Linked DNA regions of Homo sapiens: all the other regions are reported to be linked to region 1. The links are microRNA targets in miRTarBase. Many come from high-throughput screens and were not tested one by one. Region 1 holds a microRNA gene; each other region holds the end of a gene's coding sequence.

Evidence for each region. The annotated mature microRNA hsa-miR-6779-5p reads CUGGGAGGGGCUGGGUUUGGC and lies in region 1 at 2,523-2,543, shown strand. An mRNA with a match to its seed (bases 2 to 7 or 8) in the 3' UTR can be bound and repressed. Matches are read on the target gene's strand: a 7mer-m8 pairs with bases 2 to 8, a 7mer-A1 pairs with bases 2 to 7 and ends in A, and an 8mer does both.
Region 2: the mRNA of ZNF548 is a reported target of hsa-miR-6779-5p. Seed matches in the 3' UTR shown: 7mer-m8 at 1,382-1,388, 7mer-m8 at 2,000-2,006, 8mer at 2,720-2,727 and 8mer at 2,855-2,862.
Region 3: the mRNA of OCIAD2 is a reported target of hsa-miR-6779-5p. The part of its 3' UTR that is shown has no 7-base or 8-base seed match.
Region 4: the mRNA of PCCB is a reported target of hsa-miR-6779-5p. The part of its 3' UTR that is shown has no 7-base or 8-base seed match.
Region 5: the mRNA of STK38 is a reported target of hsa-miR-6779-5p. Seed matches in the 3' UTR shown: 7mer-A1 at 3,091-3,097.
Region 6: the mRNA of RPAP1 is a reported target of hsa-miR-6779-5p. Seed matches in the 3' UTR shown: 7mer-A1 at 4,710-4,716.

What each region holds. Positions count from the first base shown.
Region 1 is chr17:38,912,462-38,917,756 of GRCh38, forward strand. It overlaps MIR6779 (microRNA 6779), which reads left to right and starts at 2,518; the gene lies at 2,518-2,581. LASP1 (LIM and SH3 protein 1) reads left to right here. Exons shown (of 7, transcript NM_006148.4): 5 at 1,864-2,014; 6 at 2,582-2,685. RefSeq lists an enhancer at 1-410 and a silencer at 4,214-4,392.
Region 2 is chr19:57,399,139-57,404,433 of GRCh38, forward strand. ZNF548 (zinc finger protein 548) reads left to right here. Exons shown (of 4, transcript NM_001172773.2): 4 at 1-3,854. The coding sequence ends at 751. Among named protein-coding and RNA genes, the nearest start is that of ZNF17, 9.4 kb to the right of the region's middle. RefSeq lists an enhancer at 4,681-5,180.
Region 3 is chr4:48,880,693-48,885,987 of GRCh38, forward strand. OCIAD2 (OCIA domain containing 2) reads right to left here. Exons shown (of 7, transcript NM_001014446.3): 7 at 4,327-4,873. The coding sequence ends at 4,792. Among named protein-coding and RNA genes, the nearest start is that of OCIAD1-AS1, 23 kb to the left of the region's middle.
Region 4 is chr3:136,329,379-136,334,673 of GRCh38, reverse strand. It overlaps PCCB (propionyl-CoA carboxylase subunit beta), which reads right to left. Exons shown (of 15, transcript NM_000532.5): 15 at 4,505-4,769. The coding sequence ends at 4,648. Among named protein-coding and RNA genes, the nearest start is that of PCCB, 82 kb to the right of the region's middle.
Region 5 is chr6:36,491,597-36,496,891 of GRCh38, forward strand. STK38 (serine/threonine kinase 38) reads right to left here. Exons shown (of 14, transcript NM_007271.4): 13 at 5,115-5,209; 14 at 2,296-4,318. The coding sequence ends at 4,188. It also overlaps the pseudogene LOC124901558. Among named protein-coding and RNA genes, the nearest start is that of KCTD20, 51 kb to the left of the region's middle.
Region 6 is chr15:41,512,539-41,517,833 of GRCh38, forward strand. RPAP1 (RNA polymerase II associated protein 1) reads right to left here. Exons shown (of 25, transcript NM_015540.4): 24 at 5,260-5,295; 25 at 4,638-5,153. The coding sequence ends at 5,004. It overlaps LTK (leukocyte receptor tyrosine kinase), which reads right to left and starts at 1,289. Exons shown (of 20, transcript NM_002344.6): 1 at 1,129-1,289; 2 at 439-582; 3 at 169-340. The coding sequence starts at 1,171. RefSeq lists an enhancer at 121-868 and a silencer at 575-654.

The DNA.
Region 1 (5,295 bases):
CGCTGGGCCAGGGTGCCGCAGGATCTGGTTGCCACAGGGTCAGGGTGCCGCAAGCACAAGGAGTCACCCGTGATTCTCCAGGGTCTGGCTCTTGGGCTGAGATCCAGGAGACCTTGGCAGGCCTGTCTTTGGGAGTCTGGCACAGCCCCAGAAGGCCATCTGGACAGTTTTCAGACCTGAGAGGAGGAAAGGGCTTGTGTCTGGAGAAGGTGCCATGGGGGATGGGAGGTGGAGGAAGCCTGGGGCCAATCAGGATCTGGATCTAGCAGGGAACACCGAGGCCGGTGTTCTCGTCCCACCATGGGACTCAGCCTGAAGAAGACAAGGTGAATGAACGACCATTTCTCTCTAACTCAGTTGGCTAAGAGGACTGAGCTGGCGCCGAGGCTCTGGACACAAATGGGCCAGTTGACCCTGAGGTTTCTTTCTGGTAGTGGAGGTGGGGCTTCCTCTGGCTGACCCTGCTTAGGTCTCTGATGGAGGTAGCAGGGGCTCTGGTTCCCCCAAACTGGCCAAGTCCTCCACCATAGCACCCAAGGGGTCTGGGCAGAGTGCAGCTTCCCTCCCCTCCCCAGCTTGGCTTGGTGGGCACCTGCCTCCCCTGCCCTCCTGACCTTGATGGCTAATGCAGCCAGCCCCAGGCAGGCACAGTCACAGCCCTCAAACAACATGAGGCCCAACTCAAGACTCCTGGGTGGTGGTGGTCAAGGTGGGGGACTCTGTAGCCAGTAGAGCACTGTGGGGGCAAGAGACTGACTTGAAGGCTTGGAGCCTCACATGCCCGCCTAGTGGGGTGGTCCTGAGGGATATGACTTCTTTGGGCCTCTCTGCTCATTTTTGGAACCTGACCCGAGAAGGAGCCCATCCAAGACAATGTCCCGCCCTCAGGGAGGGTCTGGCAGTTTTTATCCCTAAAGGCTGGGATTCTCAGCGGAGCATCCTAGGCTGTAGTACCCACGACATCTTGCACACAAGAGGTGGAATCGCCTGTTGATGAAGAGCAAGGCTCTGGAATCTGTGATCTTGGGCCACTCACTTCACTTATCAATCCCTTCGCTTCCTTCTTGCCTGTTACATGGGGTCTGCAATCTACCCCTCAGGGGCGCTGACGAGCTCACATGAGCCTGTGACATAAAACACCTAGCACGGCCCTGGCGCAGTAAGAGCTCAGGAAACGGGCTGCTGCTGTGGTTACTGTGGACCCAGGCGGAAACAGAGCAGCCCCGCCCCTGCCGCAGGCATATAAAAGTGACCACTTGGCCGGTCACGGTGGCTCACGCCTGTAATCCCAGCACTTTGGGAGGCCGAGGCGGGTGGATCACCTGAGGTCAGGAGTTTGAGACCAGCCTGGTCAACATGATGAAACCCTGTCTCTATTAAAATACAAAAAATTAGCTGGGCGTAGTGGCAGGCGCCTGTAATCCCAGCCGCCCAGGAGGCTGAGGCAGGAGAATCACTTGAACCCTGGAGGTGGAGGTTGCGGTGAGCTGAGATCGTACCATTGCACTCCAGCCTGGGCGACAGAGCCAAACTCCGTCTCGAAAAAAAAAAAAAAAGAAAAGGGACCACTCACTTTGGTCTGATTCTTCAGTTCTCATGGTCCTTTTACATCGGTCATTTCATTGCATTCTCCAACAGTGTCTGAGGGAGACTGGTGTCTCATTTTGCAGAGGTGAAAACTGAGGCTTGGCAAGATTAGGTAGCTTGTCCAAGGACACACAGCTGGTGCTTCCAGAGCGAGACCTGGCTTTCTGTACCCAAAGCTCTTGGGTAGTCTCTCCCATCCTGGGATCTTGAGGGTCACGGGAAGGAACTGGGTGGTTTGCAGTGGGACCCTTCACCTAGTGCCTTCTGACCTTGCAGATAAAATACCATGAGGAGTTTGAGAAGAGCCGCATGGGCCCTAGCGGGGGCGAGGGCATGGAGCCAGAGCGTCGGGATTCACAGGACGGCAGCAGCTACCGGCGGCCCCTGGAGCAGCAGCAGCCTCACCACATCCCGACCAGTGCCCCGGGTGAGTGCAGGTCCTGTTGGTGCAGATGACCTGAGGCGAGGCCAGTGGGGTGGGGAGGAAGCCAGGAGAAGACAGACAGACAGATACACCTTCCGGAGCCTTGCTCTTAATCAACAGGCGATTATGCCTCTTGTGTGCAAGAGGGGACCAGAGGACCTGAGGCCGGGCCAGCTGGGGTGGGGAGGAAGTCGGCGAGAGACAGACACACACACACACACACACACACACACACACACACATGCACGCACGCATGCAGGCGAGGAAAAGACTGCTTCCCAAGACCCCAAGTTCCATTCTCATCCAGAATGAGGACGTGAGCACCAGGGTCAGGCCTGTACTGGGCCAAGAGGATTGAAAGGAGAGGCCCCCAGGTCATGGGGCTCAGAGCCCCTGCGTGGGATACAACACACAGGCAAATGTGCACACGTGGACATCAGCCTTTGAGCTGTGGGGCTTGAGCCAGGTTGGGGGCGGGGTGGAAGTGCATGGTATGGACTTCTCGGGAGCTCTGGGAGGGGCTGGGTTTGGCAGGACAGTTTCCAAGCCCTGTCTCCTCCCATCTTCCAGTTTACCAGCAGCCCCAGCAGCAGCCGGTGGCCCAGTCCTATGGTGGCTACAAGGAGCCTGCAGCCCCAGTCTCCATACAGCGCAGCGCCCCAGGTGGTGGCGGGGTGAGTAACCCTGGCCGGAGGGGAGAGGCCAGAGGCAGGGGGTCCTTCGGGAAGGCTTGGACACAGCTCATGGATTCTCCTGACCTTTGCACCCACCCTCTGTTGTGTGTGATGATAAGGATCTCAGCCTTGTGAGCAGAGAGGAAATTGGTTGGCGTAGTGGGCAGAGGCTGGCTGGGACTGGGGCCCTGCGTTCCAGCCCTGGTGTACCATGGGCAGGTTGCTCACCCTGCTTTGGGTGGGGTTTCCTTACCCCAGCTACCTGGGAACACACAAGGCAACTTTCTGCATGGGGCCTTCCAGCACTGGGCGCTGCTCTCCTCGCTTCATGAGGATGGCCCCCACATCCTTCAGCTCTCAGGCTGCCCCTGCCTCTGAGGGGCCTCCCCAGCCATGTCGTGTAAAGCGCATCACCCTGATGCTTTGCATCACTCGACTCCGCTGGCTGCCTTCAGAGCACTTTTTCCAACTAAAAAGAGCTCTTCGTGTTGGTCACCTTCTCTGTGTCCCCTGCTGGGCTGGGGACCCTGGCAGCGTCCGTCTGGTTCACCTACTCTGAGCCAGGCCTAGAGCAAGTGAATAAGCCCAGCAGGAATGGGGTGAGATCAGGCTTCCTGAGCCCTCAGAGCTGAAGTCCCGGCTCTGTAAGTCCTGCCACTCACTCCACCCATGGGTGCCGCTGAGCCACCCTTACCAAGCTCCTGGCAGGCTCAGCGCCTCCAGGCTGGGTGCCTGGGAATTCAAAGTAGCTCACGTAGGAGCAGAACAGATACTTAGAGAGATAAAATCGCCTGAGATAATGGCTGGCTGGAGTCTGATGCTCTGGGCACACAAACAAAGGGATGTTAGGACTGCCCAGGGCACTGTGGGCGCAAGAGTTAGTCTGAAGTATAAGGTTCCAGGCAGCCCAGCCAGTCCCTCCCTCCTCAATGGGTCTGTCCTGGATGTGTAGGGTCCATCTCTGAATATAAAGCCACCTCTCTGCCCTCTGGGGGCTTACATTCCAGTCAGGGGGACAAACAAGAAAACAATAAGAAAATAGGTGTATAACATAAGGTCAGCGGTGACACGCTGTGAAGAGAAAGACAGCAGGGTGAGGGATGGATAGAAAGCAGCTGGATTAAGACATTTGGCCGGGGGTGGTGGCTCACGCCTGTAATCCCAGCACTTTGGGAGGCCAAGGCGGGCAGGTCACTTGAGGTCAGGAGTTCGAGATCAGCCTGGCCAACATGGTGAAACCCCCTGTCTACCAAAAATACAAAAATTAGCCAGGTGTGGTGGTGTATGCCTGTAACCTGTAATCCCAGCTACTCGGGAGGCTGAGGCAGTAGAATTGCTTGAACCCGAGAGGCAGAGGTTGCAGTGAGCCAAGATTGCACTATTGCACTCCAGCCTGGGTGACAGAGCAATATCTCCAAAGAAAAAAGACATTTGGCCGGGTGCGATGGCTCACACCTGTAATCCCAGCACTTTGGGAGGCCAAAGTGGGCAGATCACCTGAGGTCAGGAGTTCGAAACCAGCCTGGCCAACATGGTGAAACCCTGTCTCTACTAAAAATATAAAATTAGCTCGGCATGGTGGTGCATGTTCATAATCCCAGCTACTCGGGAGGCTGAGGCAGGAGAATTGCTTGAACCTGGGAGGTGGAGGTTGCAGTGAGCCGAGATCACGCCATTTGCACTCCAGCCTGGGCAGCAAGAGCAAAACTCCAGCTAGAAAAAAAAAAAGAAAAAAAAGACGTGACATTTGAGCAAAGTCCTCAATAAAGGAAGGAGTGAGCCGTGCAACGAGGACAGGAAGTGCAAAGGCTCTGAGGCAGGAATATTCTAGGAAAGTTCAGGGAGCAGCAGGAAGCCCGAATTGACTAGAGTGGGAGAGGGTGGGAGGTCCGATTATGCAGGGACTTGTGGGCCCCAGGAAGGCCTCTGTGACCTGTGATCTGTGCAGAGCGACATAGGTTTTTGGAAGACCACCCTGGCAGCTGTGTTGAGAAGAGGCAGTGGTTTGAGGGTAGAAGCAGGGAGACCGTCAGGAGGCTGTTGCAGGATATAGGCATGGATGGGAGTGGCTCAGCCCAAGATAGAGGCAGAATTGGTGATGAGAGAGACTGAGGTTACTTCATGGGAGGTGTGACTTCTTATCCCATAGACCTGTTGGTTTCAAACTGTCCTGTGGAGCCTCAGAGACCAGTCAAGGGCAGTGAAGGTCAGGGGAGGTAGAATGTTGTCTATAGCTATAGGATTTATTTTTCTTTTTTTTTTCCTCTTTCTTTTTTTAAACTCCATCCTGGTAGTAGGTGGCGCTGTAGGTTTTTGTGTGCCTTACTGAACATTACCTAGATCTAGGGCTTAAGCGGCAGATTTTGGCTGAGGCTTGGAAGGTGGAACCTGATAGACTCGTCTTCTGTCCTCTGAAGATTTTTCTCCCAAGGAAAGATCTTTGTCCTGAACTTGGACAGGACTCATCATGGCTTCTAAAAGAAACTACTGGTGCTTATAATCATACAAATAATAGCATACAGGGCATGTTTTTTCTGTTTTTTTTTTCTTTTTTGAGACAGGGTCTTGCTCTGCTGCCCAGGCTGGAGTGCAGCAGTGGTGCAATCACAG
Region 2 (5,295 bases), not on the chromosome of region 1:
CACATGTGGGAAATTCTTTCGGTACAGCTCCACATTTGTTAGACATCAGAGAGTTCACACCGGAGAAAGGCCGTATGAGTGCAGGGAATGTGGGAAATTCTTTATGGACAGCTCCACACTCATTAAACATCAGAGAGTTCACACCGGAGAAAGACCTTATAAGTGCAATGATTGTGGGAAATTTTTTAGGTATATCTCCACACTCATTAGACATCAGAGAATTCACACTGGAGAAAGGCCTTATGAGTGCAGTGTATGTGGGGAATTGTTTAGGTACAACTCCAGCCTTGTTAAACATTGGAGAAATCACACTGGAGAAAGGCCTTATAAATGCAGTGAATGTGGGAAATCATTTAGGTACCACTGCAGGCTCATTAGACACCAGAGAGTCCACACGGGAGAAAGGCCTTATGAGTGCAGCGAATGCGGGAAATTCTTTCGTTACAACTCCAACCTCATTAAACATTGGAGAAATCACACTGGAGAAAGGCCTTACGAGTGCAGAGAGTGTGGGAAAGCCTTTAGCCACAAGCATATACTTGTTGAGCACCAGAAAATCCACAGTGGAGAAAGACCTTATGAGTGCAGCGAATGCCAGAAGGCCTTTATTAGAAAGTCTCACCTGGTTCATCACCAGAAAATCCACAGTGAAGAGAGGCTTGTGTGCTCCATGAATGTGGGGAATTCTTTAGCTAAAACTCCAACCTCATTAAACATCAGAGATTTCACAATGGAGAAAGTTTACCATTGACTATTGTAATTGGGTAGTAATGTTATATAAATTCCACATTTTTATGCAACTAATCTCCAGAACATTTTTCCTCTTACCAAGAAGTAAAATGCTGTACCCATTAACAACAACTCATTCCCCTTCCCTACTTCCCCAGAAATGTCTCAACTATATTTCTATACTCTATGGTACTTATATGAGGTACCAATAGATATCTATGAATTTGATATATATTTGTACCTCATATAAGTGGATTCTACAGTATTTATCTTTTGAGACTGGCTTATTTCACTTAGGATAAGGTCTTCACGGTTCACCCATGTTGTATAATGTGTCAGAATATCCTTCCTTTTTAGGTGAAATAATATTCTATGGTATTTATATACCACATTTATTTATCCATTCATCTGTTAGTGGATACTTGGGCTACTTCCACCTTTTGCCTATTGAAATAATGCTGCTATGAAGATGAGTGTACAAGTGTCTATTCAAGATTCTACTTTCAATTCTTATAGGGTATATACTCAGAAATGGTGGTGCTGGATCATATAGGATTTCTATTTTTTTTTTTTGTTTGTTTTTGAGACAGAGTCTTGCTCTGTCACCCAGGCTGGAGTGCAGTGCTGTGATCTTGGCTCACTGCAAGCTCCGCCTCCCAGGTTCATGCCATTCTCCTGCCTCACCCTCCCGAGTAGCTGGGACTACAGGTGCCTGCCACCACGCCTGGCTAATTTTTTTGTATTTTTAGTAGAGACGGGGTTTCACCGTGTTAGCCAGGATGGTCCTGATCTCCTGACCTTGTGATCTGCCTGCCTTGGCCTCTCAAAGTGCTGGGATTACGGGCGTGAGCCACCGCGCCTGGCCAGGATTTCTATTTTTAATATTTTTGGGAAAATTTTTCCATAGTACCTGTGCCATTTTACATTCCCACCAGCAGTGCACAAGGATTGCAATCTATATACATCCTCACCAACATTGTTCATTTTCTATTTCTGTTTTTGGGGTTTTTTGTAGTGCCTTTTGTTTTGGATAGCAGCTATCTTGTTGGATGTGAGGTGGAATCTATAGTGTCTTTCATTTTTATTTTGTGAATGATTGATGATGTTGAGGATCTTTTCATGTGCTTGTTAGGCATTTGTGTATCTGGAAAAATATTCAAGTCTTTTTTTTCCATTTTTAATGGGACTATTTGCTTTTTGTTGTTGAGTTGTAGTTCTTTATACATTCTGGATATTAACTCCTTACCAAATATATGCTTTTTACATATTACCTCCCAGTCCATAGGTTGCTTTTTCGCTCTGTTGATTGTGTCCTTTGATGAAATTTTAAGTTTTGATGTACTGTTGACTCTTTCTGTCTGTGGGTTCTGTATTCATGGATCGAAGCAACCATGGATCAAAAGTATTTGGAGCATCCATGGATTGCAGTGATCATTAATCAAAAATATTTGGAAAACAAAAAGGGTAGTTGCATCTGTACTAAACATGAACAGACATTTTTTCTTGTCATTATTCCCTAAACTATATAGTATAATAAATATTTACATAGCATTTACATTGTATTAGAAGTTATAAATAACCTAATGATAATCTATATAGGAAGATGTGTGTAGGTTATATTCAAACACTATGCCTTTTTATGTGAGGGACCTCTTGAGCATCAGATGATTTTGGTATCCACAAGGGGTCCTGGAATCAGTCCCCCACAGACACCAAGGGATGACTGTAGTGCATTTTATCTATTTTTACTTCTGTTACCTGGGCTTTTGATGTTATATATTAAAAAAAATTAGTATCAAATCCAATGCCAAGCATTTTCCCTATGCTTTATTCTAAGAATTTTATATTTGAAGGTCTTACATTTAGGTCTTTTTTTTTTTTTTCTTTTGGAGGCAGAGTCTTGCTCTGTCACCCAGCCTGGAGTGCAGTAGTGGAATCTCAGCTCACTACAACCTCCGCCTCCTGGGTTCGAGCCATCACCCCACCTCAGCCTCCCAAGTAGCTTGGATTACAAGTGTACACCACCACACCTGGCTAATTTTTGTATTTTTAGTAGAGATGGGGTTTTGCCATGTTGGCCAGGCTGGTCTTAAACTTCTGGCCTTAAGTGATCCCCCTGCCTCGGCCTCCCAAATTGCTGAGATTACAGGCAGGAGTTGTAATGCACTGTGCCTGGCTACATTTAGATCTTTAATCTACTTGGGGTTCATTTTTGCATATGGTTTAAGGCAAAAGTCCACTTTATGTGGCTATCCAGTTTTCCAAGCACCATTTTTTGAAAAGAGCATCTTTCCTCTGTTGAGTAGTCTTGGCACACTTGTCAAAATCATTTGTCCATATATGCCATGGTTTATATGTGGATTCTCTATTTTATTGGTCATATGTCTGTCTTTATGTCAGTACCACACATTTTAGGTGTGTGTGTGTGAGACTCAGTGTTGAGGACAAGGCTAGTGGGCTTTCACACTCCAGACTGCTGTATTCCAGCCCAAATTACTCAAATTAGCCAATCCATGGGGAACATGGAAAACGTAGCTAATGCAATCCGCTTGCCTTACCTAAGTTGTCCCCTGCAGCCTCAGGTTGCTGTTACTGTGTTTCAGATGCAACCCTCTGTGGGACCCTACCCAAGTTCTCTCATTCTTAGCTATAGGTAATAAATTGTTCTGATTTTGTGTATCCAAGTGACATTGGGTTGTTTCTTGCTATCAGAAGAACCCAGAAAAGTATTATGAATCTAGTGAATGTTGGAAAATCTTTAGCCATTAGCATAACCTCATTTCGTGCCAGCATGTTCACCCTAGAGAAAAGTAGAAGTGAAGGCAATGTCATCTTTCCTTGTTAACATGATAACTCAGTAGAGCAATGCTTTGGAGATTAGCTTTTTAGGGAGAGAGCCAGCAGTTGAGCCTCCTGCATCTGAACATCCACACTAGGGATATTGTCTGTACTGCCAGATATATGGGAAGATTTTGTGAACTGTGTTGCAGTTTTCAACTTGACTGGGGCCTTTCCCAGAGTTATGCCCCTGCCAGTGCCTATTTAAAAATGTCATCTCTTTTCTACCAACTGGCAAAGAGCCATGGTGTGTAGCATTTTAGTCACATTAAAATGCAGTTATGGCAGCATGCTGTGTTCTCTATCTGAAGAATTCACTAGTCACTTGAACACTTTGGAGTCCTCACCCCCCTCCTATGATTGATTAGGGCATAGACATCAGCCTTGGACAGAAGACATGGACTGGCTTTGGCAGGCAGATTGCAGAAATTTCCTTTCTCCAGGGGAAAGTATTGGTTATCTCATTGATAGTGGTAGGAGGCAGATACATTGCTAGGCAGACTAAGGACGGGTCCCTGGTGAAACCCAAACTTCAAGCCAACGACAGTTTAAAGCCTGAAAATTGAGCTGCCAGTTCCAAGTAGAGTCCATGACTGGAGTGAGAACTTCCTCAATGCCTTTTAGCCAATCAAATGGTGCTTTTTCCAGGCCCACCCATGGACCAATCAGTATGCAGTCTCCATTCTGAGCCCATAAAAACCCTGGGCCCAGCTACACATTGGGCTACCCACTTTCAGGTCCCCTCTTGTTGAGAGCTTTTCTGCCACTCAATAAAGTTCCCTGCCTTGCTCACTCTCTGGTGTCCACATAACATCATTCTTCTTGGTCATGGGACAAGAACTCGGAAACTGCCAAATGGCGGGTGTGAAAGGAGCTGTAACACTGTAGCCCTCCTGCCTTCCACCAGCCCCAGGCAGCCACCCCATGTGACAGGAAGCAGCGGCAGCAGGGCCAGGCCAGCCCATGAGCCATGGGCTGGAGCAGGGTGGCAGGACCAAACAAGCTGTGACACACCCCCATTCACTGAAGTGTGTGGATGGTGGGAACAGACAAGCTGTAACACAAATGAGCTGTAATGCTTCCTTGGGGCTCAGACCTTGGGATTCCCTGAGCAAAAGCTGTAACACCCCTTGGGGCTCTGTGGTTGCTGGCGTCTCTGAGTTTTTGGGCGCTGCCATGTCCCCCTTGTCCAGATACCAGCTTCCAAGGCAGAAGCCGGTCGCAGCACGCCTGGACCAGCTGTAGGCCAAGCACAGAGCCATGGTGGGCACAGGATCCGGCTGGTAACATGAGCCAAGCACAGCCTGTCGGACTGAGTTAGTTGAGTGAGTCCAGCAGGCCAAGTGATGTCTGGGCAGAAGTGCTTCAGCCATGGAGGTTTCTGCCTGGTGAAGTGGCACTGAAAGTATCTTGTGTCATCATGACACTTGGGATGGAATTTTCCAACCTGCCAGTCACCCACACTGTGAACTCCTTCTCACCCCTAATGCACACACATACCCTGGTTGGTTTTGTGATAATAAAGGTCACATTGTTTAAGCTACCTTAACTCTTGGAAATCTAGTCACCGTATGCAGTGGGTTTTGAACAGAATTGGTCTCTGCTAGAATAAAAGCATGAATGGTTTTTTGTGGGACCTTTACTTTGTGAGCTCCAGAGGGACTAGTAGGAAGCAAAAGATCAGCTCGTATGCAGATTTGGGCCAATTTGCATTGCCATGAGAAGCCT
Region 3 (5,295 bases), not on the chromosome of region 1:
ATTACTTAATCAAATCACGCAAGATACATTTTTATTACTTTCATAATGTTAAACTAGACAAACCATTCTGACAGCAAAGGAAGAGAATATCTTTGTTTAAATGAGAATTTTAAAATATATAATAAGCATTATATACAGTATATTATATGCTACATATTTATATATGTAATAATATACAGTATAATATCTATAACATATGAGTCTTTCTGGAAACTGATCTATTTTAATAAGAGAAACAAACACAAAAGGATTATTCCACTATTTTTTAAATTATAAAACATACATTTCATTAGAATACAGTTTATAGTAATAACTTTTGAACTCCAGGATCACACAAACTGAGGCAAAATTTAGAACAAATGATCACCATAGCTAATGGTGGAATGTTTGGTTAATGCCTTTGAAACTAAAAATATCTTGAAAGCATCCTTTCTAGTCATCCACTTGTATGTAAGCCAAGAAAGAAACACACTTCTAGGCATCACTGGAGTGCCATGGAGGTGCATGGAATTAAGGAAATCATTTTGATCTTTTCTGGTCGAGTAAGGATCTTCCTTATTTTCATTAGTGTCATTACCCGCTGTTAAAAACATTTTATTATGTTGTCTAGAGGAACTACAAATGTGTTAGACAAGGTTTGCTGATTTCAGATATCAAGTTTGTCTCTTCTTACAGGTGCATCCGTGGACAAACTAATGTTACATTTTAAATTCCATTAATCAAATTCAAAATAATGGGAAGGTTTGCATTCTCGTCACTGTAGAATATCAGTCCATATCATCCTAGGGAAAGTTTGCCAATAAAATTGGTTAGACATCCAACTTTTACTACCGTGTAGTCTCATCAGTTCTTTCTTTCACGTGAGTCTATCTACGATTTTATCTTGCTGTTCTTTTCCAAGTTTTTTTCTTTTTTTTTTTTTATCATGAAGGTACTGCTTTCATAAGCTTGTGACCAGCTTTGTGATGAGTGTTGGTAATGGTGAAATGTCAAAAGGCAGGTGCTGTTCCTTTAACACAAGAAACAGACATTCTCCCCCAGGTACTAGCTTTCTAATATGTACAATAGATAGGCAGCTGGGTGCGGTGCCTCATGCCTGTAATCCTAGCACTTTGGGAGGCTGAGGCAGGTGGAACCCTTGAGGTCAGGAGTTTGAGACCAGCCTGGCCAACATGGTGAAACCTTGTCTCCACTAAAAATGCCAAAAATTTAGCCAGCCGTGGTGGTGCATGCCTGTAATCTCAGCTACTGAGGAGTCTGAGACAGGAGAATCACTTGAACCTGGGAGGCAGAGGTTGCAGTGAGTCAAGATTGTGCCACTGAAGTCCACCTGGGCGACAGACAAGCAAAACAAAACAAAACAAACGAACAAGAAACCCAAAAAAATAGCAGCAGAATAATCAAAGCCTCTTGGATGAACTTCCAGTTTTTTCCTTATTGATTTTCTTTCACTCTAAGATAGATCGTCATGATAAACTGCTTCAATGAATAACTTCTCTACGTAGGAAATGTAGAAAGCCCAAGCAATAAACCCAATTTGATTGAGAAGAACTATGAAGATGTCATCTGTAAAAACAATGCTCCTTTCAACAATAATAAATGTATTGGCCAGGTGCAGTGGCTCACCCCAGTGGCCCAGCACTTTGGGAGGCTGAGGCAGGTGGATCACGAGGTCAGGAGATGGAGACTATCCTGGCTAATACGGTGAAACCCCATCTCTACTAAAAATACAAAAACTTAGCCAGGCTTGGGGGCGGGTGACTATAGTCCCAGTTACTTAAGAGGCTGAGGTAGGAGAATGGCATGAACCCGGGAGGCAGTTGGCCGAGATCGCACCACTGCACTCCAGCCTGGGTGACAGAGCAAGACTCCGTCTCAAAAAAATAAAAAAAAAATAAAAATAAAAATAAAAATAAATAAAATAAATGTATCTTTCCCCAGTACCTTGGGATAGATTTTTTACATTGACTTGCTGTGCTAAGCAATGTGAAATGTTCTGATCCCTAGGAAATCATTTTCTGGGGAGTAGGAAATAAATGTGCCCAATTCTGAATTTTTGCCAATAGCTGAGATAACAAAGAGTCACCAACTGCTAGTTATCAGAGACAAGAGTTAAACTTGCATTTAAGATGATAGGATATTGGCTTTGCATTCTGATTTACAGAAATAAAACTTTATGGACTGAAAAAATAGCATACGTAATATAAAAAGAGGCTTACTCTTAATGTTCATGTAAAAATTAAAACTTCTGTATAATTTGATGTTTAAAATAAAATATTTCATGTAAACGATTAACTTTTAATGAAGTTTCTCTTTTAACTTCCATGATACATGTTCAAGATGTATTAAGTAAAACCCAAATGTGTACATACACAAACCTCTTATATATCTATCTATCTATGTATCTATCTATGTATCTATCTATCTATCTATCTATCATCTATCTATCTATCTATATATATATATATTTTTTTTTTGAGATAGAGTCTCGCTCTGTCACCCAGGCTGGAGTGCAGTGGCACAATCTCTGCTCGCTGCAACTTCCATCTCCCGGGTTCAAGCAATTCTCCTGCCTTAGCCTCCTGAGTACCTGCGACTACAGGCATGTGCCACCACACCGGGCTATTTTTGCATTTTTAGTAGAGGTGGGGTTTCATCATATTGGCCAGGCTGGTCTCAAACTCCTGACCTCAAGTGATCTACCTACCTTAGCCTCCCAAAGTGCTGGGATTACAGGTGTGAGCCACTGCACCTTGCCTATATATTGATATAAATGATGATACATATATAAAGCATTCTTCTGAGAAGTTGCAAAGATGCAAGAGTAGTTTTTCTGTAGGGCTCAGACAACCTGTCATACATAAAACAAAAGGTTCCCACATGGAAGGGTTTCTTTTTTTTTCCTTTCTTTCTTAATTTTTTTTTTTTTTTTTAGACAGAGTCTCACTCTGTTGCCCAGAGTGGAGTGCAGTGGCACTATCTTGGCTCACTGCAACCTCCACCTCTCCAATTCAAGAGATTCTCGTGCCTCAGTCTCCCCAGTAGCTGGGATTACAGGCATGCACCACCATGCCCGATTAATTTTTGTATTTTTAGTAGAGACAGCATTTTACCATGTTGGCCAGGCTGGTCTCAAACTCCTCCAGTGATCTGCCCGCCTTGGCCTCCCAAAGTGTTAGGATTACAGGTGTGAGCCACTGCACTTGGCCAGATTTTGTTATTGTTGTTTTCATGCAACAAATCTGACAGGAGAATAGGAGTCCAACCCCTGGAGTTGCATTGGCTGCCTCTGAACTCCCTAGAATTCTAAATTTATCATTCCATGTATTAATTATTCCAGTGATTCCTCCCATAAATAAGTTGTTCCTTGGGGAAAATGAGAGACAATTTGGGAAGTTGTGTTTCTTGTTTCAGGCCACTAGTAGTATATGAAAGAACCCCATTCTTGAGGGCTGCCCATAAGCATGTGCCCATTTGCTAAGCAGATAACCTAAAGACAAAGAGGCCAGGCATGGTGGCTCACACCTATAATTCTAGCACTTTGGGAGGCAGAGGTAGGTGGATTGCTTGAGCTCAGGAGTTCAACACCAGTCTGGGAAACATGGCAAAACCCCCCCTCTACAAAAACTACAAAAATAGTGGGCATGATGGCACACACCTGTAATCCCAGCTACTTGGGAGGGTGAGGTGGGAGGGTGGCTTGAACCTGGGAGGTCGAAGCTGCAGTGAGCTATGATCATGCCATTGCACTCCAGTCTGGGTGACAGAGCAAGACCCTGTCTCAAAACAAAAACAAAAACCAAAACAAAAACCAAAACAAAAACCAAAACAAAAACAAAAACAAAAACAAAAAAAGACAATGGTCACTTCCAAAACTCCACTGTTGAACCATACTGTTGAACCATAAGGTCACCTGGAGCACTGAAAGGATAGTTGATTCATATTTTGACCCTTTCCAACAAAACACTTTTCACTAAGTTAAAAATGTTGCCCCTACATTTTAGGAAGCCCTTCTCATACCTGTAAGTCAGTCTTGTCCTGTTTCTATCTCCATACACATTAATTTTCTTGGGGTCATGACTTCCTAACTTCTTCAACATTAATTCCAATTCTCTATCAGATAACTTAAAACACTGAAAAAAAAAGCAGAGTAAAAGAAAGAATAGAGGCTAATCTGAGAAGACTTAATTCTCTTATTTAGCTGTAAGCAAGTTGGGGTGGGGGTGCAATGTCATTTGTGTGTGTGTGAGGATTCCTAACATGTTGTGTGTGTGTGTGTGTGTGTGTGTGTGTGTGTGTGTGTGTGTGTGTGTGATGGAGTCTAGCTCTGGCACCCAGGCTGGAGTGCAGTGGCACAATCTCTGCTCGCTGCAACTTTCGCCTCCTGGGTTCAAGTGATTCTCCTGCCTCAGCCTCCCTCTCAGTAGCTGGGATTACAGGCATGTGCCACCACGCCTGGCTAATTTTTATATTTTTAGCAGAGATGGGGTTTCACCATGTTGGCCAAGCTGGTCATGAACTCCTGACCTCAAATGATCTGCCTGCCTCGGCCTCCCAAAGTACTGGGATTACAGGCATGAGCCACTGCGCCATGCCCCGACATGTTCTTAAAGAGCAGAAAAACATGTAACGCTTAGTTCACTTGAAAGCCTTCCACGGAATACATTTCAGTGAGTGACAGACACAATGTTTTTGTTCCATTAGAAGTATTTTATTTTAAAGTACACTTGAAATTTTAAATGTGTACAAATTCAGAGGTTTAAAAAACTTCGAAAGTCACAGACACAGAATTTAGGAAGCTGAAGGCTGAGAGTCTCCCTTCTCACTTAATCCATGCTTTATTTTGCATTCCTCACAGGTAAGGAGGCAGTGCCTAGAAGAGAAGCAAAAATAGACAGCGGTTTGTACTTTGACACTGGAAGCCCTAGTCTTTACATAACATATTATTCTTATTATTTTAACATAATCTTTTTAATAGAGATGTGGGGGGAGTCTATCTATGTTGCCCAGGCTGGTCTCGAGGGCTCAAGGGATCCTCCCACCCAACCCTCTTGAGTAGCTGAGACTACAGGCATGAACCACTGCACCTGGCTTTAACACAATATTAGAAATATAGTCTATGCTAAAGTTCACTAGCCTTGTTTTTTCAGAAATAATAGGAGTATTCTCCCATTCTGTAGGTTGCCTGTTCACTCTGAAGGTAGTTTCTTTTGCTGTGCAGAAGCTCTTTAGCTTAATAACATCCCATTTGTCAATTTCGGCCTTTGTTACCATCGCTTTTGGTGTTTTAGACAT
Region 4 (5,295 bases), not on the chromosome of region 1:
AGGACAGTAGGGACATGGTCAAAACTTAACTAACTATTGAGGCTGCCACATTGGCTGGAATATGCCAGCTGGATTCCACAGAGGCCCCAGACTGAGGCACTGCCTATCAAGTGGCTGCAACTCCTGCTTGGAATTGTAGAAATCCCATGCTGACATCAGAGGTGCACAGAGTATGAGGACCAATACTTCTAAAAGGGTAAAGTCATAGCTCTCCAGAAATCCTTTGGAACCAGAAAGACAAAACAGTCACATCTGTTGAATAGGTGAAGAGGGCTGATTCATCAACTCCACATGTGGGTGAGTATCCTTCACAGACTTCTTTGGCTGAGCAGACCACATCTTAAGCACCAGCACCAGGACAAAGTATCAGTGCAACCAGAGGCAGAAAGTTGGGCTGGGGAGACCAAGACAGGGTCAAAAAAAGAAGCTAGAAGAACTTTGCAACAAAAGCACTTTCTAACAAGCATTAGAAGGGTGTATTGTGGATGTGCTCCCCATTACTCTAGCAACTCAAAAAGATGACTGGCCATCTGTTGGTACTGCTTTGCAAGAGAATCATGCGGGAGATAGGAAAGCTGTCTAAATGTAGTAGCTTTCTGGGTTAAGACAAGCCCAGGGGAACAGACCACCAACCTCCCTCACCCCTACTCTTAGGCCAACCCTTAGAAGTCCATCTCACCTTCCTCATCAGCTGAGTGGTAGTACTTTGAAATGATCAGAACACAGGCTTGGCTGGGGTCAAACCCATCTGAGTTCAAATCCCAGCTTCACCACTTGTCAGCTGTGTAGCTCAGGAGGAACTGGATTAACACAAGGCGGGGCAGGACCAGCAAGACCCTAGCAGTGCTTCCTACACCACAGCTCACCATATTATCTGCTCTCAGTTTAAAGACAGACACTTGTCAGCTATCAGCTCAGTGGACCCAAGTATTTCCCATTTACAAAATTCAGTGTATTTTCTTTTTCCCTTTAAGGTGAGGGCACCAGCTGGGGAAGGCATTCCCACACAAGAGAACACTCAACTGTCATTACTCTCAAGGTATTCCGTGGTCCATGGAGGCTGGTCCACTTGACAAAGCTTCCAAGGTCTTGTGGCTTTGAGTTTCTTTGACCAGCTGAGTTTCTGTACGGGAGTTTCCCCACCATCCAAGGCTTCCGTAAAGCTGCTAGCCCAGCTGCTCTCCTGAGCTGGTTCCTCTACCATCTTACAGCCCCTCTACCATCTCGGTGTCCAGACTGCACAACCTGGTGAAACACTTCTTGGACTCTTACCTCCAAAAAGAAAAAAAAGAGCTTGTATGTACTCTTTTATGGACCATAGCAGAGATCACGAAAACAAGAACTGTGGGCTCAGAAAACTCACTAGGCAAGCAAGGGAGGGACAGACTGTCCAGGACCACCTACGTGGGCTAAGGACTCTGGAGAACAGGGAGCTCTGGAAGTGGCGCTGGAGCAGAGGAATGCAACAAAATCTGGATCTGGAGTTAGTATGGTAGCTGAGAACAGGACTTCCAGCTCAGTGGGAGGCCACAGAGATCAGTGAAGAGACTGCTGCAAAAGTCCTCAGAGCCCAACTAGGATTGGTGACTGAAGGAGAGTGGAAAGATGCTTTAAGAAAAAAAAAAAAAAAAAAAAAAAAAGAATGACTCTTAAGGGCTACTGGGAATGGGGGGTAGGGGAAAATATTTTTGAAATGGGAAAAGTGGAGAATAAACAGTCACACATTAAGTTGACCTTGAAATAATGATTCACTGTCCAAGCAGTGCTTACAGATCTCTGGAGCCAAGGGAAAGCCATCAGTAGTGGGAGGGCCCTGGGGTTTCACCAGAGAGGATGCCTGAGGTGGGGGGGCATCTTGGATCAGCACTCCATGGTTGGTACTTCTGCTCAAACTTAATCTCCAGTTCGGTAAAACTATTAATGTTTTAACTTAGTAAAATCAAGTCAACAGTGTAGGAGGAAAGGCTTTAAAGTGGTTTACAAACAAAAAGGACTAATTCATATTGATAACCACTCAGTTACTAATTGAGGTAGCTTAACCATGTATCTTCAGTTTAAAGACAAAATGAACTACAAAGAAGTCGTGAACTTTAGAAGGTTTATTGTTGATAGAGCTGTAGTGATTCTGAAACTTGTATTTATGGTAGCACTGAGCAAATGAGTGAAATATATTGAGAATAATGGGAGCCAGGGTTATTACTGCTGTGGTAAGAGAGACAATACAGAATGGGGGAAGGCAAAGAAGCACCCATGGTGTTGGATTAAAAGTTTCAGTATGAACTCATGATTTAAAAGTATGATAAATATGTATTCATATATACATGTGTCCCACATATATATACACACACTTATTTGCATAAATTTTCCTAGTTCTGTCTGCTGAAATGCCTCAAAGCAATGATATCCAGTATCAGTGTGAATACCTAGTGCCAATTTTAGCTTCTAAATGACATACCTACTAAAAGAAACTAAGAAACTACTATATACTACTACTACATACCTATTAAAGAAACTCCTTGGAGAAACTGCTGATTCCTGGGCTGGGCAAGGAAAATACAAGATAAGCCTAGAGCATTATCTTGTCAGAAAATAACGAAATACTAAAAAAATCAGTGGGATATATTAAAAGCACTTTGGGAGGCTGAGGCGGGCAGATCACGAAATCAAGAGATCGAGACCATCCTGGCCAATATGGTGAAACCCCGTCTCTACTAAAAATACAAAAATTAGCTGGGCATGGTGGCACACACCTGTAGTCCCAGCTACTCGGGAGGCTGAGGCAGGAGAATTGCTTGAACCTGGGAGGCAGAGGTTGCAGTGAGTCGAGATTGCGCCACCGCACTCCAGCCTGGCGACAGAGCGAGACTCCTTCTCAAAAAATAAATAAATAAAATAAAATAAATCAAGTCCAAAATGATACTAAGAAAACAAAAACAGGAGAAAAGAAAGCTCCCTTCCTTACCTAGAGTTCCAACTAATAAATATGAGAGAGTTAGAAACTCAACATTTTATAATCAATGCAGAATCATTGATTGAGGCAAAAATCATCAATGAATACTAAAATTATTGGGTGAAAGTTTATTTATTTAATTTTCTGAGACAGAATCTAGCTTTGTCACCCAGGCTGGAGCACAGTGGTGTGATCTCGGCTCACTGCAACCTCCGCCTCCCAGGTTCAAGCGATTCTCCTGCCTCAGCCTCCTGAGTAGCTGGGCATGTGCCTCCACATCCGGCTAATTTTTGTATTTTTAGTAGAGATGGGGTTTCACCATGTTGGCCAGGATGGTCTCAAACTCCTGACCTAAGGTGATCTGCCCACTTTGGCCTCCCAAAGTGCTGGGATTACAGGCATGAGCCACTGCGCCTGGCCCAGGTGAAAGTTTATTGACAGACAAGATTAAATAATACCCCACAAATTAGTTATCAGTTACAAAGAGAAAATGGTAACTACCATGGAAAAACCTTTGCAGCCACGACCTTAACCATGTGATCAGAATCAGTTACCAACAGGAGGAAAAACTGACATAATGTGCTTACTAATGTGACGCACTGAAAGGAATATGTGTTAGTCTTATCTGAATCTAAACCTCAGGAAACAGACATCCCAAACTGAAGGACACTCTACCAAATAACCAGCAAGTAAGCTCTCCTCAAAAATGTCAACGTCATGAACGACAGACTATGTAAGACAAAGGACCTTGTTCCTAGGAGATACAAGTTTCTAGGAACACAGGGTCACGAATCTGCAACTGACTTTCAAAGGGGTCAATTAAATAATTATATTGTATATGTTATACAATTATATAATTATATAATGTATAAATACATAATATAAATATATAAATATATATAATCATGTTAGATATAATTATACATTAATTATATTAATAATATAATTAGATATATCTTATATGCATATTATATATTATTAGATATATCTACGTATGGAAGAAATAAAGCAAATGGAGAAAATGTTACCAACTGGAGAATCTAGGTGAAGTGGATACAATACACTTCTTGCAACATTTCTATCGGCTTGAAAATTTTCGCAATTAAAAAGTTTTTTTTTAATTTTAAGAACACATTTCTGGAAATAACCTGAGTCAACATAGGGTGCTATGCCTTATTGAGCATCTGTACTGCTAAACACATATACCACAATTGCAAACATCACATTTAATCCTCAATTCATGGAGGAATTAGGAGATAGATAGGGCATATTACCCTATTTTTAAAATAAGGAAACTTAAGCCTAAGAAATACTTTGCCTTAAAAACTTACTATATATCTCACCTATGGATAAAAAAACTAACTCGAGAGGAAAAAGAACAATACCCAGAGGTGTGAAATAAAAATCAGCTCTAGATGATAACACTGTGTACTATTTTTCTTTCTAGTTGTATTGATTTTTCAGATTTCCACCTAAAAAAATCGAATTTATGCTCAAAAAATACAACTTAAAATGTTTAAAAAAGTAAATAATTTTACAGTAAGGCACAAAAGAGATCTTTCTAGAATTTAATAAACTTAGTTATTCTAAGTTATCCAACTATTTGGATTCCCAGGTTTCATGATTGCAAAAGGCAGGAATGGGATGTGAATGGGCAGACAGTAATTCAGTTCTTGGTTTCTTTTCCTTTGATTTGTTTACAATGGAATATTTGCATGTTTTCTCCAAGGACGTTGTACCTTCTTGCTGGCCAAGACATCCAGGTCACAGCAGATTCGGGCACGTGTGGAAGAAGGTTGGATGATGTCATCCACAAACCCTGGTGAAGCACAGAAAAGGGAGTGGATCATCTGCATCCCGAGATGATGCCACCCCTCAACCTTCTGCTCAGCCTGGGCACCATCCCTGGGGCCAGCAGTATAAGCAGTGCCCAACCTGATACAGAGATGGTAGGCCCTGTGAATTCCCCCTTGTATCCCAGGAGCTGGCCTGTTCTGACAGCTCCCCAACTTCTGGCCTAGGAGCACTTGGCAAGAAAAGGAAAATCGGACACCCTCCCTATACCCTGCTTGCTCCAATGCCTCCATCCTGCCACAATGAATTCAATAGGAAATAAAGAAAATACATCTAGGTTTTCAAAAATGGCTATAACAATTCATCCTTGTACACAAGTCCTGCAATGTGACTTTACCACTTCTCTCTTCAAGAGGTGGATTTGTATTCCTTCGCTTAACCTTGTTGAGTTTTCTTGGCCTATAAAATGTGGCAAAAATGACACTGTGCAACTTCCAAATCTAGGCCTCAGTTTCCCTTTGCCCCCTTGCTACTCTCGGGACACCATGTAA
Region 5 (5,295 bases), not on the chromosome of region 1:
TTAAGTGTGGAACTAATAAGAAGGAAGTCAGGGAGATGGGAGGAGAGTGAGTTTGTTTTAAAGGTTAACAGGTTAACATCTCTGGGATGCTTCACTAAGCTACTCACAACTCTGGGTTGGCTTGTCAAGGTCACATCAACACTAATGTAAATAAGGTGATGCTACATTCCATTAAGCCACTTGTTGTTGGGAATTCTCTCAAACTGATCTGCAATTCAGAACCACGGTGAGCAACCTGTTGCCTCACCAGACTGCCTGGAACTGAGCTTGAATGTTGCTTGGGCAAGGTGTTTTTTCTCTGAAAATGTGCGTGAAAAAGCATCACGAAGGCCGTTTTTGTCAGTGTTGGCTTTGATGGATCATTCCAGAGAAATATGCTCTGTAGGAAATGAAAATATCATTCACTGAATCCTTCTGAATTCAATTAAAAACACCACTTGGGTTACACAGAAGCCCAGGAGAACCAGGACAAGGCGATCTAAAAAAGTTCCAAGGAAATAATTCTGACAAAGAGCATTACCAACTGATGGCAGAGGGGGACTCTTACTAGGCTGTACAGATGAGTTTTCAAATTGGCAATCTGTTTTGCAGAACCTGAGTATTAATCCTGAAGGAACTCATGTGAATCTTAGTTTTGACTTTTTTTTTTTTTTCTTTTTGGAGACAGAGTCTCACTCTGTTACCCAGGCTGGAGTGCAGTGGCACAATCTTGGCTCATTGCCACCTCCACCTCCCAGGCTCAAGTGATTCTCCCACCTCAGACTCCCGAGCATCTGGGACTACAGACACGTGCCACCATGCTAATTTTTTGTATTTTTGGTAGAGGCAGGGTTTCGCCATGTTGCCCAGGTTGGTCTTGAACTAACTGGGCTCAAGCGATCCACTCACTTCAGCCTCCCAAAGTGCTGGGATTAAAGCGTGAGCCATCATGCCCAGCCCTTTGAAAGTAATTCTAAGAGCAACAATGGATCAAGCTGGTATCCACCCATCAACAGTCAGAAAAGCAGCCTGGGTAATTTAGATGCAGGGGAGAGGAGTACTAAATAAATGCCAATCAACCAAGCCAACTACAAAGAAACAGGTACTAAAGAAAATTGTGATGCATTCCTGAACTGGGAGACATCAAATGATATGATTTTGGTTTCATTTTAGTATGCAATTTTCTAACTACCCCAATGAGAGTAGGAAACAGAATTTCTGTCAACAGGATCGACACTGAGCCAGTGTTGCCCAACATGTTTCTTAGGATTCATAAGCCTTAGAAAGACATTACCCATTCTGGCTGCATTTAGCTTCCTCTGCCTGCAGTTTCTACTCTAGCTGGTCTTTGCCCCTCCCTTCTGGACTCCTTGAGGTGCTTTTCCCTACCCAGAAAGGGGCTAACAAGTGGGGCATATGGGACTCCTCCAGCATACAACATCTCAGAGACAGAACCCTGCTCTGATGGACACAGGGCTGAACAATTCCATCTTTTTTTTTTTTTTTTTTTTTTTTGAGACGGAGTCTCGCTCTATCACCCAGGCTGGAGTGCAATGACACGATCTCAGCTCACTGCAACCTCCGCCTCCCAGGTTCAAGCGATTCTCCTGCCTCAGCCTGCTGAGTAGCTGAGACTACAGGCTCGTGCCACCATGCCCAGCTAATTTTTGTATTTTTAGTAAAGACGGGGTTTCACTATGTTAGCCAGGATGGTCTCAATCTTTCCTGACCTTGTGATCCCCCTGCCTCGGCCTCCCAAAGTCCTAGGATTACAGGTGTGAGACACCACACCCAGCCAACAATTCCATCTTATGAGCTCATGAGATTCCTCGTTGACTGCAGGCTGCGAAAAAATGGGGCTGGGCTGTAAAAGGCTGTACAAAAGGTCCACCAGATGACAGCACTTTTGTCAGGATGTGTGTGCCCTTGGCCTTACTGTGAGGGGAGGGCCCACTGCCCTGCAACACTGAGGTGGGTGGAAGAAGCACATGCAGTCGGGGCAAGAGAAGTCTCTTCATATGGACAGTGATTCAGGAGACTAGCTCCCTAAGAACAAAAGTCAGTCCCAGCTTCCCTGAGATGGAAAAGCACTTTGCATGAAGATGGTGATACAGTTTTGAAATTAACACTCGAAATTAGGCGTTGTAATGGTTTGTGGACAAAGGGGTTAAAAGCAGCCATCAGCACTCTGCCTCTAAGTTATATGCCACTATCTGCTTTAAATCACATCACAATCCCCTCTCAGCCTTTTTGCTAAGATCAAATGCAGTATCTGTTCTTATCAGTTTAATAAATCACACCACGTATTTCCACTACTGTTTTTACACAGTTTATTCAGAAGTTTAAAAGTTAAAATGTGGGCATTTTCCCCTGAAACAAATCATCCCCTGCCACTCCCCAACACAAAGACTCTCCCAACACCGCAGTTCCTTCTCTTTACCCAGGCTTACCACACATTCTTGCAAAACACACAGGAGTCAACACCCCAACTATTTGGTAATACAAAGAGACTACAAAGTCACACAAAAGAATCTCATTTACTTCCTTTTCACTAGCAGGCTATGAATGAAAGACTGAGAGGCAAACACATCACCTTCATCCAGAGTTGACACTTCCCTAACCTTTTTTCTTCCTCTAAGAGGTTAAAATCCAAAGTAGTTTCACTGACAACTGTAACTCTGATATTCCATTTTTCTCTTCTGAATGGCTAAGCTAGGACATACTTTCCTTTCAAAGCTGATCTTCAGAACCTCAAGACTGGCAGAAAGCAGGCTCCCAGCTGCAGCTCGGCCACAATACTTTGCAACAGGCAAAGTTCCCACATAGGTGCAAATGATGCTTTAAGAGTTATCAAAACTTTTTAAAAAATAATGCATTAATATGGAGCCTCCACATTTTTCTGACGAAATTCCTCTAAAGGTGGTGGCAGCTGTGAAACAGAAGGCACTTTGTGCTAAAATTCAGAGGGTCTCTCAAGAGAGAACGCCACAGCAGAGAGACCCAATCCGCCTAAGTTGCAGGCGACCCTTTAGGGTGGGGAGGAGTATCCCCCAGGAAGGCATCTGCAAAGGAAAAAATTGTAATCATGATTCCAAGGCAAAATGGCTAAAGTTGGGAGAGAAGAAATACCAAGAGAGAAGACAAAACATGGCTGTGCCAAGGACTGAGGAGTGAGCTTTACAAGGACTTGTCAGCTGGCTCTGTACTTCTATTGGGCTGGTTCCTTCACCATTTCCAAAGGGGTTCTGGAGACCTTGCAGGAACAGGAACAGCACCTTAGCCAAGAGGGTTCCAGGCCTCCTGCCTAGGCCTGGGCTCTCCTCGTTAGGTTCCCAGGAATAAATTGAGTTCCCATTGGCAGCACTTGCAGGTATTGCTAGTCCACGGCAAGATCTGTCTTAGGGATTTTCTGGTACAGCCGTGAAGAGAAAGTGAGGGTTTTCCACATAATCCGGGATTTCTTGGCAATGCCCAAAGACTTTCTGGGCCTTCTAAGAGCAACAGTGGATCAAGCTGGTAACCCCCATCAACACTCAGAAAAGCAGCATGGGTATTTTAGATGGGGGACAGGAGGAGATAAATCAATGGATTGACAGTCTTTATCTTAGTACCATAAATAAAGTGCACCATGAATGGAGGCTATAAGCCACTCGCCTGAGGCTGAGGTATGGGTAGAAACTACCATCACCACCCTCAGGGTGGCGGATCATTTCCTTCAGCCAGAATCCTGGCTGCTGAGACTGTCTTTATTGCTTTATTTCCTTAGTACTATGGAACTTTTAGCTATAAAGGAAATACTTGGTGGGCTTGGCAGAGAGCGTGTCACAAAATTACAGGAACTGGCTGATATTCGATGACTATACACGACAATCTCAATAATGTTGGATGATGGCTGTTTTTCCCCTTCATTCTGATGAACTTAGGAAAACTCAAGTTATTTTTAAAACACCTATCAAATTGGCTCATGATGCTTCTCTTCCAAAGCAGGATAGCTGTTTATGGCCGACGTAGTAGAAATGGTTGTCTTTGTTTACAGTTTTTCAGATGCATTATGGAAGAAAATCCTCTTACTACCACATTTCAGGAGACTTTACTATGACATATTGGTGGGTTCCATCAACTTCTTGGAAGCTCTTCAAGAGTGTGAGAGGAAAAGCATGATGTTATACAAAGAACTCTGCTCCACATAGGATTCCGTGGCAAGAGTACTATTTTGCTGCTTTCATGTAGGAAGGTATTGCCCCCCTTGCAGTCAGGCCCTCAAAGCGCTTGTACGTGTAATTGATGAAGACCCAGTCTTTGTTCTTGTAGTCAGTCTCAGGATGATTACTTGTGGCCACTGGGAAAGAAATAGATGTGAGAGTTGATTCACTGCCTTGCCTCCAATGGACTGCTCACGGTGCTGAAGACAGGACTATGAAGAACACACCAGTTTCTATTTGGGAAAGCTTATTTTTCACTCTATGAATTTTTTTTTTTTTTTTTTTTGAGACAGAGTCTTGCTCTGTCGCCAGGCTGGAGTGCAGTGGCGTCATCTCAGCTCACTGCAACCTTGCCTCCCGGGTTCAAACAATCCTTCTGCCTCAGCCTCCCCAGTAGCTGGGACTACAGGCGTGTGCCACCATACCCAGCTGATTTTTGTATTTTTAGTAGAGATGGAGTTTCACCATGTTGGCCAGGATGGTCTCGATCTCTTGACCTTGTGATCTGCCCACCTCGGCCTCCCAAAGTGCTGGGGTTTCAGGCATGAGCCACCGCGCCTGGCCTCACTCTATGAATTTTCCACATTTTCTTGCTCATGTTCTTTAAATCTCATATTTCTTCACAAATTTTTTAATGTTTTATTTTCCCATTCCTGTCATTTCAGATTACCTAACACTTAGTAAATAACAAAAGAACAGATTTTTGTGACTTACTCACCCAGTTGAGCAGTCTAAACATGGGAGCTGATACTCATTTTCCATTCACCAAGGTTTCACCACTACCCAGCATTAGAATTAGAAAAGTACTTACAAAGAACCTGAAGAAATGAAATTCCTCTCCATGTTCACTACCCTGATTTGTAAACATCATCCCAAAATTGGGGGTAAATAATGTGCTTATAAGGCAGCAGGAGACAATGCTGGTGGTGTTACCTGTTGGCTTAAGAATATCAGATTCTGGAAACTCATCGAAGTTTGAGGTATCATCAATGCTTTTGATTTCAATAGATATTGCAGCAGGTCTCTCTCTGCCAAGAATACACATGCCAAAAATTACTAAGTTAGTAATCAAATGGATCATACCAATCAAGTCTTTCTCCAAAAAAGACCCCTG
Region 6 (5,295 bases), not on the chromosome of region 1:
TAAGGGCTAACTCGGTGGCGACTACTGCCACCTTGAAGGGCACTCAAGGTGGACCTCCCCGCGGAATAGTCCAAGACGCAAGTCGGTGCGCACGTGGACTTCGTTACCCTGAGGGTGAAACCTCCAACTAGCAGGTCACTGTCCACCCTACCTCCGCCGTGCACTTACAGATACTGGCCAGGGCCCGGCACGCGCCACAGCTGCACGCCTCTCAGCTGCCCGGCGGCCCCCACGGTCACCACCACGCTGGTCCCCGCGTACGCCCCGTCACATTGTGTCTGTGTGGGCCCATGCCGGCCGCTGGCCCCGCAGGTAGAAAACAGCCAAGACCCCTCGGTGCCTGAGAGCAAGGAGCGAGGCAAGGGTCGTCGAGCCCCTGGCTGGGCCAGAGGGGTCTGGTATGGTGAGCGAAAGAGGAAGGAGGCGTCTAAAGCTCACCCGGAGAATTCAGCGGGGAGGCTGGCTCCAAGATACTAGGCGGGGCGCTGACTTTCGGGTCCCGGGGGCTGGGACTTGCCAGCGGCAGGGGCGAGGACCGCAGAAAAGTCTCCTGGGACCCCGGGCTAGAGCAGAGAATGGCGCCTGAAAGGTGTTGGGAGAAGGCGCAGGACGTTAAGGCGGGTGGAAATAGGATATGAAAGAAAGAGAGAACCCCGCAACAGCTGCCCTTGCGGTCGCGGCCACACCCGTCACCCGGCCCAGCCGCGCTCTCAGCCTGGAAGCCACTACCCGACTCCGGTCGCAGAAGCCCCGCGGGTGCGCGCTGATAGGTCTGCCAGTTTCTCTCCTCGAGCGCCTTTCCCAGTGAATAACTTAGGGGCCGCAATGAATTTGGTCCTGCAGCCTCCCCAATGCTTTCCTCAACTTAGATTGGTGGCCCCGCCCCAAGGCGGTGCTGAGACCCCAAAGAATGTTCCTCCTTCCCAAGCTGCGTGATCCAGACTCTGGGATTCGCACGCACTTGGCGCTTCTCGGCCCGCACTCCAGAAGCACGGACCGGAGAAATTTGGCTGTGAGAGTTCGAGGCCTCTGGAGGAACCACTGACACCTGGCCTGTTGACCGGCCACCCCCAAGCCTAGGAAAGTGCCTCAGGCTGGACGGTCCCCTGACCGCCAGATAGCACTTACCCGCGGCTCCGAACCACACCAGCAGCTGTCCCCAGCAGCCCATCCCTGTTGGGTCCACCCGGCAACAAAAGCCCTTGCGGTCGCGGCCACACCCCTGTCAACCTAAAGTTGACAGCTCATTTTGCCACGGCAGCCCTGGCCACCACTTACAGGGGTGTGCTGCCGCTGGCGAGACACTCCCCGGACCTAAAGCTGGTCTGGCCACGCCCACCTCAGACCCCAGGACGCCAGAGGAGGAAAGGGAGGGGCGTGTGGGCAGCGAGGTCCCTACGCTTCCGGGAGGAGCCTTAAGGAGTCCCCACCCAGGGGTTCTAGTTTCCAGCCGTCAGATGTGCCGCAGCCTGCTGGGAGCTCCGGTAGGTTTGAGGCCGGAGAGGAGGTGCCCCACGCTTAAAGTGGGAGCCACACCTCGGACACCAGGTGGGGGCTTCCAGGTTCCTGAGGACAGGAGCAGTGGAGTGTGCACTTCATTTGTGGCAGTGGTGGTGGTGGTGAGTGTGTGGCATGCGTCACCACACGTGGGAAGTACTCTAAACTGCTCCAAGTAAGGCCTCATTACCTGCCATTACTTGTGCCTTTTAGTGGTGCCTTTGTGACTGCAAGGCTGAACCTCATTGCTACTCCCAGAAACCTGGATCTCTGTGTTTGCCTCATATAATTCCGTTGCCTGTGTTACCCCTGTGCACAGCCTCTCACTGTGATGGGGTGAAAGACTGGACCAGACGTTAGAAGATCCGAGTGTTTTTAGTAGCACTGAAGGTCAATAGATGATAGGTAGGTAGACCGATCGATCGATTGATCTTGAGCACTAGTACTGGCACCTCTGGTCAATGGGTGATGTAGCACAGGCCACAACTGCCCTGAGAGTTTCCCCACCACCTGCAAAATCATATGAAGGGAAATTGCTCTGTAAGGTACCCTACAAATGTGGGAGCCACTCCCTTCAGGTAGTTTTGTGTCTTGAGTCTTCGATCATTTGCTTAAATGATCATTTGCCGGGTGCGGTGGTTCATGCCTGTAATCCTAGCACTTTGGGAGGCTGAGGCGGGCAGATCACCTGAGGTCAGGAGTTCGAGACTAGCTAGACCATCATGGCAAAATCCCGTCTCTACTAAAAATACAAAATCAGACACACGTGGTAGCGCACGCCTGTAATCCCAGCTACTCTGGAGGCTGAGGCAGGAGAATGGCTTGAACCTGGGAGGCAGAGGTTGCAGAGACGAGATCGCACCATTGCACTCCAGCCTGGGCAACAAGAGCAAAGCCCCATCTCAAAAAAAAAAAAAAAAAAAAAATCCTAACTTGAAAGTCTGAGACCTATGTTTAATACAAAATACTTCAAAAGAGAAGTTATAGTAGTTAGCTACTTGGTAAAGTCTGAGTATAATTCAAGGTGTAAACAGAACAGTGATTTTGTAAAAAGTCTGGTCTCAGCCAGGCGTGGTGGCTTACACCTGTAATCCCAGCACTTTGGGAGGCCAAGGGGACGGTGGGGGTGGGGTGGATCACAAGGTCAGGAGTTCAAGACCAGCCTGGCTAAGATGGTGAAACCCCGTCTCTACTAAAAATACAAAAATTAGCCGTGCGTGGTGGCAGGTGCCTGTAATCCCAGCTACTTGGGAGGCTGAGGCAGAGAATTGCTTGAACCTGGAAGGCAGAGGTTGCAGTGAGCCGAGATTGCACCACTACACTCCAGCCTGGGTGACAGAGTGAGACTCCATCTCAAAAAAAACAAAAAACAAAAAAACCCTGGTCTCTATGCCCTACTTAACACTAGATATCACACTATGAGATCACAGAATTTACCTTGCAAAGTCTCTTTAAGCCACTGCTCTTCAAATTGTGGTTGTGTGGTTTGTTCTGAACATCAGCATCAGTATTACCTGGGAACTTGTTAGAAATGCAGATTCTTGGGTTTCACCCCAGATGTACTGAATCAGCAGCTTCTGGTGGTAGGACCCAGTGATCTGTTTTAAAATATCCTCCAGATGATTTTTGTCACAAAGTTTGAGAATCATTGGTATTTGCTGATACAGTAGTTGCTTAATAAAACCTATTGGGGCCACATGCTGTGGCTCACACTTATAATCCCAGCACTTTAGGAGGCTGAGGTGGGCGGATTGCCTGAGCTTAGGAGTCTGAGACCACCCTGGGCAACATGGCAAAACACCGCTTCTAATAAAAATACAAAAAACTAGCCCGGTGTGGTGGTGCATGCCTGTAGCCCCTGCTACTCGGGAGGCTGAGGCATGAGAATCACTTGAGCCTCAGAAACGGAGGTTGCAGTGAGCCAAGATCATGCCACTACACTCTGGCTTGGGCTACAGAGTAAGACTCTGTCTCAAAAAAAAAAAAGAAAAAAAGGCTGGGCCCAGTGGCTCATGCCTGTAATACCAGCACTTTTGAAGGCTGAGGCGGGCGGATCATGAGGTCAGGAGTTCGAGTTCAAGACCAGCCTGGCCAACATGGCAAAACCCCATCTCTACTAAAAATACAAAAATTAGCCAGGCGTGGTGGCACGCGCCTGTAATCCCAGCTACTTGGGAGGCTGAGGCAGGAGAATGGCTTGAACTAGGGAGGGGGAGGTTGTGGTGAGCTGAGATTGCCCCACTGCACTCCAGCCTGGGCAACAGAGCAAGACTTCGTGTCAAAAAAAAAAAAAAAAAAACCCAAAAAAACCTATTGGATAATTCTGTGTTCAGCAGCTCCATTTATGAAGACTGGGTTCTCTCTACCTACTGACAGGGCTAGGCCTTGGCACACTGCTCTGACTCTGGTTACTTGCAAACACAATAAGTAATCCACACAGCAAAAGACAGTCTAAGAAAGCCTAAAGTTTAGAATTCAGACCAAAGAACAATGTAGAAACTACCAAAATAGGCCAAGTGTAGCGGCTCATGCCTGTAATCTTAGCACTTTGGGAGTCTGAGGTGGGTGGATTGCTTGAGCTCAGGAATTCAAGACCAACCTGGGCAACATGGTGAAACTCCGTCTCTACAAATACAAAAAATTAGCCAGGCGTGGTGGCACTTGCCTGTGGTCCCAGCCACTCAGGAGGCTGAGGTGGGAGAATGGCTTGAGCCCAGGAGGTCGAGGCTGCAGTGAGCTATGATCACGCCACTGCACTCCAGCCTGGGCAACAGAGCAAGACCCTGTCTCAGAAATAGATAGATAGATAGATAGATAGATAGATAGATAGATAGATAGACAGACCGACCGACCGACAGACAGACAGACATGGGGTCTCACTATGTTGGCTAGGCTGGAATTGAATTCCTGGAATCAAGTGATCATCCTGCCTCAGCCTCCCAAGTAGTTGGGACTACAGGTGTGTACCACTGTGCCTGGCAGGCCCCACATTCTTGTTGTCTCCAGATGTGGACAAAGTTTTTACCTCCCACTTATGATTCTTCCCCATCTCTCTCACAGCAGTCCTGCTCCTCACCTGGGATAACCCACCCCCAGATACTAACCCTGAACTAACATGGCTGAAATCAGTCCAGATCAAATTTCCAGGAGATAAAAAACATTTATTTTAATGCACAACTATAGCATTCATATGCCTCAGCCCAGGGCAGGGGTTGGGAGTTAGGTAAGAAGGGATGCATTTAGTTTGCCCTGTCCCCAAAGAGCGGGTAAATAGCTAAGCCACTCTTCACTCCCAGTACAGACCTTCAGAAGCCCCAGATATCAGGATGTAATGGTAGGGCTCACTGCTCTAAAACAGCTCAAACAACCTGCTCCCAGGAAGGCAAGCCTTCTGCTCCTTGGTCTCCTGCCTACCATTAGGACACAATGTTCTTCGTCTGGCCAGACATCTGTTGAAAGGCTGGATACAGGACAACGTACCCATCTTTCCATCTATATCAACTATCCTAGGTCTCTGATACCCCATTTTGGAGCACTGTTGAAGTCAGTCTCTGGAGGTAGTGCTGACGCAGAGGGGGCAACTGAGAATAGAGCTCAAAGCCCTCTGGGAGCGTGGAATTGGGAAGCTTATAGTGCAGGAGGTGCTGCCGGAGACCCTGCAGAAAGGAAAGAAAACTTATGAAGTGGGTAATGAGATCCTGTTGTGGTCTCTGTCCCCCAAGATCCTCTAATATCCCACCCTCCTAATGGCCCTGACCCTACCTCATCTGCCAGCAGCCATGTTTTCTGCAGCATACT